4 linked regions of the Homo sapiens genome follow. The protein of the gene in region 1 purifies or fractionates together with the protein of each later gene. This does not show direct contact. Each region holds a gene or a part of one and is shown in the gene's direction. Other genes may lie near its edges.

What was found. The genes of interacting proteins can lie anywhere in the genome.
Region 2: the proteins of RNLS (region 1) and FLG purify together in Homo sapiens (pull-down; one study listed by IntAct). This does not show direct contact.
Region 3: the proteins of RNLS (region 1) and STATH purify together in Homo sapiens (pull-down; one study listed by IntAct). This does not show direct contact.
Region 4: the proteins of RNLS (region 1) and HRNR purify together in Homo sapiens (pull-down; one study listed by IntAct). This does not show direct contact.

What each region holds. Positions count from the first base shown.
Region 1 is NC_000010.11:88,283,602-88,286,318, reverse strand, and holds the end of RNLS (renalase isoform 1 precursor), read left to right. Parts: intron 1-812; coding exon 813-965; 3' UTR 966-2,217; downstream 2,218-2,717. UniProt on the Homo sapiens protein: Catalyzes the oxidation of the less abundant 1,2-dihydro-beta-NAD(P) and 1,6-dihydro-beta-NAD(P) to form beta-NAD(P)(+). The enzyme hormone is secreted by the kidney, and circulates in blood and modulates cardiac function and systemic blood pressure.
Region 2 is NC_000001.11:152,304,953-152,308,239, reverse strand, and holds part of FLG (filaggrin), read left to right. Parts: coding exon 1-3,287.
Region 3 is NC_000004.12:69,998,966-70,003,070, forward strand, and holds the end of STATH (statherin isoform a precursor), read left to right. Parts: intron 1-701; coding exon 702-722; intron 723-814; coding exon 815-844; intron 845-1,897; coding exon 1,898-1,984; 3' UTR 1,985-2,017; intron 2,018-3,223; 3' UTR 3,224-3,605; downstream 3,606-4,105. UniProt on the Homo sapiens protein: Salivary protein that stabilizes saliva supersaturated with calcium salts by inhibiting the precipitation of calcium phosphate salts. It also modulates hydroxyapatite crystal formation on the tooth surface.
Region 4 is NC_000001.11:152,211,576-152,214,193, reverse strand, and holds the end of HRNR (hornerin), read left to right. Parts: coding exon 1-1,118; 3' UTR 1,119-2,118; downstream 2,119-2,618. UniProt on the Homo sapiens protein: Component of the epidermal cornified cell envelopes.

The sequences.
Region 1 (2,717 bases):
TTTGGGGTCAGTCTACTCTCAGGACTGAAATTTCCTTAAGGACAAGGTTGTGAAATTTTAAAATTCTCCTGCTCCAATGTTCAGCATGGAGCCTGGGCCAGAACAGCGCTCAGGAAATATGTGAGGAAGAAGGAACCATGGGATGAGGAGTAGTGGAGAGAAACTGAAGAAGGATGTATTGGTCAATTTGGGCTGCTATAGCAAAATACCATAGAGTGGGTGGCTGATAAACAGAAATTTCTTTCTGGCAGTTCTGGGGTCTGGGAAGAGCAAGATCAAGGCACTGGCAGATCCAGTGTCTGGTGAGAGCCCTCATTCTCATAGATGGCACCTCTGGCTGTGTCCTCACATGGTGGAAAGGACCAACAAGCTTCCTTGGGCCTGTTTTATAAGGAGCTGATTCCATTCATGAGGAGTTTGCCCATGATCTAATCACCTCCCAAAATGCCCCACCTTCTAATATCATCACCTCGGGGGTTAGGACTTCAACATATGAATTTCAGGGGGATAAACCTTCAGACTATAGCCCCTACTAATTTTGAAGTTCAGCCCACTTCTGATTACCTTATCTAATAACTGAAAATTTAAACATTTAAGAATATAAATATAAACACTTGAACTGGGGTTGAGGGGCGTTTAGTGAGTCTTGGTTTGTTTTTTGTTTCTTGTGTGTGCATTTTTTTTGTTTGTTTGGTGCTTCTTGTGAGAAATCTTGATTTCTCCAGGTAGACTAACCTTTTCCAGGTGGGTGTTGCCATGACAGCACAATAGAGCACAGAATGTCAATTGCAATCCTCTTTTTACTTTTTCAGGTTACAAATGCTGCTGCCAACTGTCCTGGCCAAATGACTCTGCATCACAAACCTTTCCTTGCATGTGGAGGGGATGGATTTACTCAGTCCAACTTTGATGGCTGCATCACTTCTGCCCTATGTGTTCTGGAAGCTTTAAAGAATTATATTTAGTGCCTATATCCTTATTCTCTACATGTGTATTGGGTTTTTATTTTCACAATTTTCTGTTATTGATTATTTTGTTTTCTATTTTGCTAAGAAAAATTACTGGAAAATTGTTCTTCACTTATTATCATTTTTCATGTGGAGTATAAAATCAATTTTGTAATTTTGATAGTTACAACCCATGCTAGAATGGAAATTCCTCACACCTTGCACCTTCCCTACTTTTCTGAATTGCTATGACTACTCCTTGTTGGAGGAAAAGTGGTACTTAAAAAATAACAAACGACTCTCTCAAAAAAATTACATTAAATCACAATAACAGTTTGTGTGCCAAAAACTTGATTATCCTTATGAAAATTTCAATTCTGAATAAAGAATAATCACATTATCAAAGCCCCATCTTAAGTCTTCGGATGTGTCCTTGAATCAATATTTTTGCAAATTATACAAAACAAGATTTTTCCAAAATGTAGGTAACAGAGTGTAATTCTTATTTCTCATTTATCCCCCAAGTTATTAAGTGATCCTGAATTGTAGGTCATATATGTCATCATCTTAGTGTGGAGGGCAACTTGACTGATAAAGAGACCTTCCTTCAGATTTTCAGAAAGTATAAGATTCCACATGATTTTCCCAGCCACACAGTACTTTTTAACTTTCAAACAAATTCCAGTCCTAATATGAAAGATAAAAATTAAATAGAAACAGAGAGAAAGTATATCGATCCTTACCTTTTGCTATATTTTATAGCTGTTGCTGTTACTTTATGGGTTCTCCAGTATGTGCTGTGGCATTTAGACTGTGTCGAGTTTAATGAATTTAACACAACAAAAAATTTACTGAACCAGAAAATAGATGCACTTAAAATAGTTCAATATTTGCCAAGTTGGTGGTTCAGCATATCACCCACATGCTTCAGTGACCTGACCCCACGACTTGCTAGCTGGAGAGAAATCAATCTCCAGCCTTCCAAACCAGCTACCTGTTGCTAATTTGAAAAGCAAAATGATGAGTTCTATTTCAGCATTTTGAAAGGAGAAAAATCATTGCAGCCTCTCAAACTAACAAAAGTTCAACAAAAGACTTCTTACTGTAATAGTGTTTAAAGTTTCACACTTACATGTCCACTGTCATACATACACATACACAGGCACAGGCAGAACTTGCTTCTATAGCTGCAAAGTGGGTTTTATGACCCTATAGCATATTATTATATGTTTCCTCTTAGCAATAAATTGGTGAAAAACTTAAATGCCAACATGTGGTTAATGTCACTTATTTTGAAAGCAGAGGGAGGAAGAAGGAAATTTGTAGTCTCTATAAAATGATGAAAAATAGTGATTTTTTGTTATTTTCGCCCATATTTGACTAACATTTGTCTTTATTTATATTTTTTAAATTTTAAATGTAGGGATACATATACAGGTTTGTTATATAGGTAAACTTGTGTGACAGAGATTTGTTGTACGGATTATTTTGTCACCCAGGAGTTAAGCCTAGTACCCATTAGTTATTTTTCCTGATCCTCTCCTCCCTCCCACCCTCTACTCTCAGGTAGGCCCCACTTTCTGTTGTCCCCTGTATGTGTCCATATGTTCTTATCATTTAGCTCCCTCTTGTTAGTGAGAACCTGTGGTATTTGGTTTTCTGTTCCCTCATTAGTTTGTTAAAGATAATGGCCTCCAGCTCCATCCATGTTCCTGCCAAGGACATGATCTCATTCTTTTTTATGGGTGCATCATATTCCATGCTATGTAT
Region 2 (3,287 bases), on another chromosome or scaffold:
GGGCCGACAGCTCTAGACACTCACTGGTGGGCCAGGGACAATCATCAGGGCCCAGGACAAGCAGGCCCCGGGGATCCAGTGTTAGCCAGGACAGTGACAGTGAGGGACACTCAGAAGATTCTGAGAGGCGGTCTGGGTCTGCGTCCAGAAACCATCATGGATCTGCTCAGGAGCAGTCAAGAGATGGCTCCAGACACCCCAGGTCCCATCACGAAGACAGAGCCGGTCATGGGCACTCTGCAGAGAGCTCCAGACAATCAGGCACTCATCATGCAGAGAATTCCTCTGGTGGACAGGCTGCATCATCCCATGAACAGGCAAGATCAAGTGCAGGAGAGAGACACGGATCCCACCACCAGCAGTCAGCAGACAGCTCCAGACACTCAGGCATTGGGCACGGACAAGCTTCATCTGCAGTCAGAGACAGTGGACACCGAGGGTCCAGTGGTAGTCAGGCCAGTGACAGTGAGGGACATTCAGAAGACTCAGACACACAGTCAGTGTCAGCCCACGGACAGGCTGGGCCCCATCAGCAGAGCCACCAAGAGTCCACACGTGGCCGGTCAGCAGGAAGGTCTGGACGTTCAGGGTCTTTCCTCTACCAGGTGAGCACTCATGAACAGTCTGAGTCCGCCCATGGACGGACCGGGACCAGCACTGGAGGAAGACAAGGATCCCACCACAAGCAGGCACGAGACAGCTCCAGGCACTCAACGTCCCAAGAGGGTCAGGACACCATTCATGGACACCCGGGGTCAAGCAGTGGAGGAAGGCAGGGATCCCACTACGAGCAATTGGTAGATAGATCTGGACACTCAGGGTCTCATCACAGCCACACCACATCCCAGGGAAGGTCTGATGCCTCCCATGGGCACTCAGGATCCAGAAGTGCAAGCAGACAAACTCGTAACGATGAACAATCAGGAGACGGCTCCAGGCACTCAGGGTCGCGTCACCATGAAGCTTCCTCTCGGGCCGACAGCTCTGGACACTCGCAGGTGGGCCAGGGACAATCAGAGGGGCCCAGGACAAGCAGGAACTGGGGATCCAGTTTTAGCCAGGACAGTGACAGTCAGGGACACTCAGAAGACTCTGAGAGGTGGTCTGGGTCTGCTTCCAGAAACCATCATGGATCTGCTCAGGAGCAGCTAAGAGATGGCTCCAGACACCCCAGGTCCCATCAAGAAGACAGAGCTGGTCATGGGCACTCTGCAGACAGCTCCAGACAATCAGGCACTCGTCACACACAGACTTCCTCTGGTGGACAGGCTGCATCATCCCATGAACAGGCAAGATCAAGTGCAGGAGAAAGACATGGATCCCACCACCAGCAGTCAGCAGACAGCTCCAGACACTCAGGCATTGGGCACGGACAAGCTTCATCTGCAGTCAGAGACAGTGGACACCGAGGGTACAGTGGTAGTCAGGCCAGTGACAATGAGGGACATTCAGAAGACTCAGACACACAGTCAGTGTCAGCCCACGGACAGGCTGGGTCCCATCAGCAGAGCCACCAAGAGTCCGCACGTGGCCGGTCAGGGGAAACGTCTGGACATTCAGGATCTTTCCTCTACCAGGTGAGCACTCATGAACAGTCTGAGTCCTCCCATGGATGGACGGGGCCCAGCACTAGAGGAAGACAAGGATCCCGCCATGAGCAGGCACAAGACAGCTCCAGGCACTCAGCATCCCAAGACGGTCAGGACACCATTCGTGGACACCCGGGGTCAAGCAGAGGAGGAAGGCAGGGGTACCACCACGAGCATTCGGTAGATAGCTCTGGACACTCAGGGTCCCATCACAGCCACACCACATCCCAGGGAAGGTCTGATGCCTCCCGTGGGCAGTCAGGATCCAGAAGTGCAAGCAGAACAACACGTAATGAGGAACAATCAGGAGACGGCTCCAGGCACTCAGGGTCGCGTCACCATGAAGCTTCCACTCATGCCGACATCTCTAGACACTCACAGGCAGTCCAGGGACAATCAGAGGGGTCCAGGAGAAGCAGGCGCCAGGGATCCAGTGTGAGCCAGGACAGTGACAGTGAGGGACATTCAGAAGACTCTGAGAGGTGGTCTGGGTCTGCTTCCAGAAACCATCATGGATCTGCTCAGGAGCAGCTAAGAGATGGCTCCAGACACCCCAGGTCCCATCAAGAAGACAGAGCTGGTCATGGGCACTCTGCAGACAGCTCCAGACAATCAGGCACTCGTCACACACAGACTTCCTCTGGTGGACAGGCTGCATCATCCCATGAACAGGCAAGATCAAGTGCAGGAGAAAGACATGGATCCCACCACCAGCAGTCAGCAGACAGCTCCAGACACTCAGGCATTGGGCACGGACAAGCTTCATCTGCAGTCAGAGACAGTGGACACCGAGGGTACAGTGGTAGTCAGGCCAGTGACAATGAGGGACATTCAGAAGACTCAGACACACAGTCAGTGTCAGCCCACGGACAGGCTGGGTCCCATCAGCAGAGCCACCAAGAGTCCGCACGTGGCCGGTCAGGGGAAACGTCTGGACATTCAGGATCTTTCCTCTACCAGGTGAGCACTCATGAACAGTCTGAGTCCTCCCATGGATGGACGGGGCCCAGCACTAGAGGAAGACAAGGATCCCGCCATGAGCAGGCACAAGACAGCTCCAGGCACTCAGCATCCCAATACGGTCAGGACACCATTCGTGGACACCCGGGGTCAAGCAGAGGAGGAAGGCAGGGGTACCACCACGAGCATTCGGTAGATAGCTCTGGACACTCAGGGTCCCATCACAGCCACACCACATCCCAGGGAAGGTCTGATGCCTCCCGTGGGCAGTCAGGATCCAGAAGTGCAAGCAGAACAACACGTAATGAGGAACAATCAGGAGACAGCTCCAGGCACTCAGTGTCACGTCACCATGAAGCTTCCACTCATGCCGACATCTCTAGACACTCACAGGCAGTCCAGGGACAATCAGAGGGGTCCAGGAGAAGCAGGCGCCAGGGATCCAGTGTGAGCCAGGACAGTGACAGTGAGGGACATTCAGAAGACTCTGAGAGGTGGTCTGGGTCTGCTTCCAGAAACCATCGTGGATCTGTTCAGGAGCAGTCAAGGCACGGCTCCAGACACCCCAGGTCCCATCACGAAGACAGAGCCGGTCACGGGCACTCTGCAGACCGCTCCAGACAATCAGGCACTCGTCACGCAGAGACTTCCTCTGGTGGACAGGCTGCATCATCCCATGAACAGGCAAGATCAAGTCCAGGAGAGAGACACGGATCCCGCCACCAGCAGTCAGCAGAC
Region 3 (4,105 bases), on another chromosome or scaffold:
AACTATAAAACAAAACTTCAGATCTATGACATGTTATGAGTTCCCAGCTTTTATTGTCATTTACTACTATGTATCACTAGGTAAAGCACTTGACTTCTCTGGAGCTCTTTCTTCTACTCTACTTCCTTCTATTTCTCCTGTCCCTTTTCTATGACATTAGTAGGAAACTGGCCATGAAAGAATAAAAATAGTTCAACTTACCTGGTAAATTCTAACAGATATTTCAAAAACTAATTTGATTATAAAATCACAGTATACCACATTATTTGTTATAAAAGGATAGGTGTCTAAAAAATAAAAAATAAAAATGTAAGGAAAACAGAGAAAAACATAATGCTTGTCTCTGTCAGTAAATAAAAGTTATGTGTAAGTAGCCTTTGAGCTGCTGAAAACATATTCTTATGAAAAAATACAAAGTTTCACTTTTCATTCACCAATGATAACCATTTACTCCCTTTTACACACAAAACAAGTATAAATCCAAATAAATTTATATTTGAATATAGCACACTAATTACAGAAAAGCATACTCTTAACTCATTTTAAAGATGTCATGAAGCAAAAATAACTAATTTAGTGTCTATCGATGATTTGCCTACATCCTGTTTACTCACAACTGTAGCTGCTGAGTTCATTTTTGTACTCAATCTGGAATTATAACATTAAGATACTAACTATTGTCTAATTTTCTGTTTTCTAAGGGAGCTGATTCATCTGAAGAGGTGAGTCATTTTCATTCACTGGAAAACTTGTTTTCAGTTTTGTCCTCCCTACATTTGTATTGAATTATTAAACTTTTCTTCATTTTTCACAGAAATTTTTGCGTAGAATTGGAAGATTCGGTGTAAGTGTTCTCTGATAATGCTGTGTAGTCCAAATAAATTGTGTTCTCTGATTACTTATTCTTCTAGAAGAACCAATACTTATTTCTCAAATATGTGTAGTAGTTGCAAAAGTGTGCTTTGTTTTCCTCTATTTATGATACACAGGTAACAGTCACAAATGTATTGTGTCCTAACAACATTTAAGTTGAAACTCATAGTGCCAACCTGAAGAAACCAGTTACTCCCTGAGCCCTCAAGTATCATCTCCTAAGTAATCACTTTGACCTAAAAAATAGTTGAAATTCTAATTCTGTTAATTATAATATATGCCTCATGGAGCATAAAGGCTGATAATTACACATAAAATATGGTAAGTTTGCACCTTCTGATTTTTTTTGACGGTGATAAACTCATTAAATTAAACAGGTCATGATAAATGAGATAGCAAATTTCATTTATTTAACATTTTTCTTAATGTATGTATCTTGATGTCCCAGTATGTTGACATATAATGTCAATGTGATAGGGTTGCAAAAGATCCCCTAACTAATATAGTGAATACATGGATTAAAATAACACCAAATAAAAAGATACTCTAAAAGGGATGATGGTTATTTGTGTTAACAGAAGGAAGAAGTATTAAGGAATGTAGGAATCGTAAGAGACAGTAAGCTCATTAAAAGAGTGACTTGAAGAAACACCACATAAGCTGAATTTAGTAAATGTCTCCTTCCCATAATACTCAAAGGTGGGCAAAATGGTTGCTGGGAGGTAGTATTTTGAAGAAAATTTAAAACCTCTTTGGAGTGATAGCCTATAATCGGTGTTCCTGCATGTGAAATAAAACCACAAAACTGTGAACATGCAGTACAAAGGTAAACACTCAATCATTTTTACCTGCTTTTAAAATGTGTTTATAACCAAAAAGAAAAATCTAATTGAAAGTTTGGAAAAAAATCTTATAAGTAATATGTAAGTTCCTAAAACTTTAACAATCTAAGCTTCTAATAAAAACGCTTGCACTGTCATTATCTCAATTTTCTGCAATTTTCTTTCTCCTTGTGTGTATACAGTATGGGTATGGCCCTTATCAGCCAGTTCCAGAACAACCACTATACCCACAACCATACCAACCACAATACCAACAATATACCTTTTAATATCATCAGTAACTGCAGGACATGATTATTGAGGTAAGATGGGTTTAGTGACATTTTTTTTACTTTCTGTATCAGTGCTGACAGTTAAAAGAAGAAAAACAAAAACAAGACATTAAACCAACAGCAGTTCCAGTATAAGAAAGCAGCCAGCTGTATAGCTCCTTGAAATGTATTAATTTATATAAATGCTTCTGAGATAGTCTCTGTCCTGCTATGGTTAGAAGGCAGTGTTATAGAGTGGGGGACACCAGGGTTTGTATGCTGGCCCTGACAACTACTAGTTTCATGACTTTGAACTACTCCTAATGCTCCTGAACCTCAGTTTTCTCGTCAAAAAATTGTGTATTATGATAACACTTAAATGTGCTTTTTAGAATTGGTGACACTTTTGAAAGACATATCACATAAAATCTCTTGATCAGAAAGGTTTGTAGTTATAACTGCAGGGCTTCCCTGCCACTAAATCTGTACCTAGGTGTTGCTTAAAGTTTTCACTCCCAAAATGCAATCTTTGGAGAAGCTTCCATCTGGGAACCATCTGGGAACTTGTGAGAAATTTGCATTTTGTACCCTAAGTAACTCTACTGAGCAATTACTATAGAAATTATTAACATAATGCTAACAAGAAAATATGGAAATGTTATCAATTTCTTTTTAGAAAGTCAGTTTTACCTATCTCTACACAACATTAAATGTTCTAAATTCTATGAAAAAATAATATTTCAAAACAAAATAGAGCAAACTCTTGGAGATAAGGGAGGATTGTTCTACAAAGTTAAAATAGTCCAAAGGATTTCAATTATTTTTCAGTGCATTTGGGAGATTATATTCCAATTCAATTCTCTATTGCCATTAGTGATACAGGGAAGAGCCTGAACTTGATCCCCTAGGTTTTAGGTAATAGCTGATGACATTTAATCAAGAAAAGATGTATTGAAATATTATTTAGAGGAAATGCATATAAATGAAATGTGTAGGCTATATTTAAGTAGAAGAATAAAATAGTATGATGATTGAAAAATAATTTAAATTGTAGATGCTGAATGATAATTTTTATTTATTCAGGAACCAATTTAATAATTGTTTAATTGTCTACTCTGTGTCAAATATTATTTTGGGCCCTGCATTTTATAAACTATAATTGTATATAATATCTACTCTGTACCAGGCCAGAATATAAATGTGTTTACAGGGGTAAAAATTTTACAGATAATCTGTTATTTTTTTTTTTCTGTGCAGGCTTGATTGGCAAATACGACTTCTACATCCATATTCTCATCTTTCATACCATATCACACTACTACCACTTTTTGAAGAATCATCAAAGAGCAATGCAAATGAAAAACACTATAATTTACTGTATACTCTTTGTTTCAGGATACTTGCCTTTTCAATTGTCACTTGATGATATAATTGCAATTTAAACTGTTAAGCTGTGTTCAGTACTGTTTCTGAATAATAGAAATCACTTCTCTAAAAGCAATAAATTTCAAGCACATTTTTACATGTATGCTCCTTATTTTTCTCTTTTCTATTTATAGGAATAATGATTTCTTTCATCATCTTCTTTCCCAGTTTGACTAGCACAGATTGAAGCCCATAATGTCAGAGGTCCTTATTTATAATTTAGTCTGTCATATTTTATATGTTACAAACATGGTACTCAAACTCACTTATTATTAGAGCTATTTATGCCAAGATTTGATTTGCCCATGGTTTCCTTTGCCACACCACAGTTGCTAAGCCTCCAAAGCACTCACATTTTTTATCTCAGTCCCTGTAGGTCAGAAGATAACCACCATGTCACTCTACAGCAGTATGTAGGCACTCTGCATGTAAACCATCTAATGCCCTCCATTAGTTTTTCAGCAATGACTTTTATTCAAGAAATATTTATTGAATGACCCCAGCTGTCAGGTCCTCTTCTAGATGCTGCAGACAAAGAGAGACAAAAGTCCTGTCTTTGGAGAGTTTACATTGTAGTTGGGAGATGCAGATACAAAGTAAATAAATAGTACATATCTTAGGCAATGATAAGTGTGCTAAAGAAGTATAAGCATGTCTAGGGCACAGAAACAAATTTAAACAGGATAGTCAACAAGAGACTCTCTGACATAGTGA
Region 4 (2,618 bases), on another chromosome or scaffold:
GCTCAGGTCATTCCTCTACCCATGGGCAACATGGTTCTACATCAGGACAGTCATCGAGCTGTGGCCAACATGGAGCTAGCTCAGGTCAGTCTTCCAGCCACGGTCAGCATGGCTCTGGCTCAAGTCAGTCTTCTGGCTATGGCCGACAGGGCTCTGGATCTGGCCAGTCTCCAGGCCACGGCCAGCGTGGGTCTGGGTCAAGGCAGTCTCCCAGCTACGGCCGACATGGGTCTGGCTCCGGTCGGTCTTCCAGCAGTGGCCAACATGGGTCTGGCTTAGGCGAGTCTTCTGGCTTTGGTCACCACGAGTCTAGCTCAGGGCAGTCCTCTAGTTACAGTCAGCATGGGTCTGGCTCAGGTCACTCCTCTGGCTACGGACAACACGGCTCTAGATCAGGACAGTCATCTAGGGGTGAACGACACGGATCTAGCTCAGGTTCGTCTTCCCACTATGGTCAGCATGGGTCTGGCTCCCGTCAGTCTTCGGGCCACGGCCGACAAGGGTCTGGATCTGGCCAGTCCCCTAGCCGCGGCCGACATGGGTCCGGTTTGGGGCACTCCTCCAGCCACGGCCAACATGGGTCTGGCTCAGGTCGTTCTTCCAGCCGTGGCCCATATGAGTCTCGCTTGGGTCACTCTTCTGTCTTTGGTCAACATGAGTCTGGCTCAGGACATTCCTCTGCTTACAGTCAGCATGGTAGTGGCTCAGGGCACTTCTGTAGCCAAGGACAGCATGGTTCTACATCAGGACAGTCATCAACCTTTGACCAGGAGGGATCTAGCACAGGCCAGTCTTCCAGCTATGGCCACCGTGGCTCTGGCTCCAGTCAGTCTTCTGGCTATGGCCGACATGGGGCTGGATCTGGCCAGTCTCTTAGCCACGGCCGACACGGGTCTGGTTCAGGGCAGTCTTCCAGCTACGGCCAACATGGGTCTGGCTCAGGACAGTCCTCTGGTTATAGTCAGCATGGAAGTGGCTCAGGGCAAGATGGGTATTCTTATTGCAAAGGAGGAAGTAACCATGATGGGGGAAGTTCTGGCTCATATTTTCTCAGTTTTCCTAGTAGCACTTCACCCTATGAATATGTCCAAGAGCAGAGGTGCTACTTTTATCAGTGAATAATAAACATAAATGCAATTTACTCAAGTAGCAATTTAAGAAATAGGAAAGTCATCTATGAATTCATCATGAAAGACAAGCAATCCATCATGAAATTCGTTCTAAAAGTGAATCAATGCATTTCTGTCTCTTTCTTTAGAGCCTAAAACTGTAGCATATATCTTGTTATGGGGTTCCTTCCAAAGACTGTTAGGCATTTGTGCTACTTTGTTAGAAAATACTGAGTGGAATAACTTGTTAGAATGAGGGTTAAACTTTGAGGAATAATGAAAAGCTTTTAAAGAGCTTTGGGTTTAGTTGGAGTTGTCTTTTTGAGAGCTCATCATTCATTTATAGATGGTGCCAAAGCTAACCTTACATTTCTTAGAAGCAAAATATTACAAATGCATTACCAGTCCTAGATACAAAGCTTTGTTTTACAGCAATTAGTGTACCCTAATTTTTAGTGTGCCCCAAGTTTGGTGTGTCCCAATTTTTGGTATTGTGGCAGAAGGTGAAGGCTCTGAAAGCAAAGATGCAGCAGCGGTAGTGTCTTTACTTATCAAAACCATCAAGTCCTTTTTCTTGGGTATATATTTAATCAGTAAGTTAATTAGTGGCATAAAAAAGTAGCATCAGGGTCTTTTCCCAAGCCAGTGAGCAAGAGCATTATTTCATAAAGAATAGGGATTTATCATTTCAGGAAAAAAAAAAACATTCAAATGTGGGCTTTAGCTTGTTTTCAGCAGAAAGATCTTGCTCCCTATTTCTAAGAGGCTGCTCAATATTGGGAAATATATTGAGGAGTTATTCCATGGAAATACAATGCTTTCCACCTACTACTGTAGTTCAATAACGTTTCCACCTGAAAAAATATCATCCATGCCCAGATGAAAAGGAAGAGTATCTGTCACTGCTACATAGTTCCTTAATTTGACTGTAACACATTTGTTTCAAGTCTTTGGATTCAAACAACCGGATTGTATTAAAATTGACAATAAATAAATGTTGATTAAATACTAAGACTTTTCTCATCTGTGCTTCATTTCACTTCTTACATACAGATGGTCATCCTAGAAACCAAACCAAACAGCGATTTCCCAATATTCTATTTTTCACAATGAAGAATAGATAAAGCATTCTTAAAACTCAATAAGACAAACTACTTCATTTTAAAATGATCAAAATTCCATCACACTGGTATTGGCAATGATTTTTTTGATATGACACCAAAATCACACACAATAATGTGGAGCTGTCAGCTCCATACATTTTATTGTCCCTGAAGCCCTTAGAGGGAGACAACATATGGAGGTAGAAGGCGATATTTGTCTTGGTTTAACAAAAACTTTTTAGTGTTAGTTTTAATTTTTAACAAAAAAAGTTTTTTAAAAAAATTTAAAACAGAAAAAAGCCTACAGAATAATGATGTAAAGAAAAAAATATTTGTGTTCAGCTATACAATGTGTTCGTGCTTTAAGCTAGGTGTTAATTAAGAGAGTCAAAAAGTTTAAAAATGT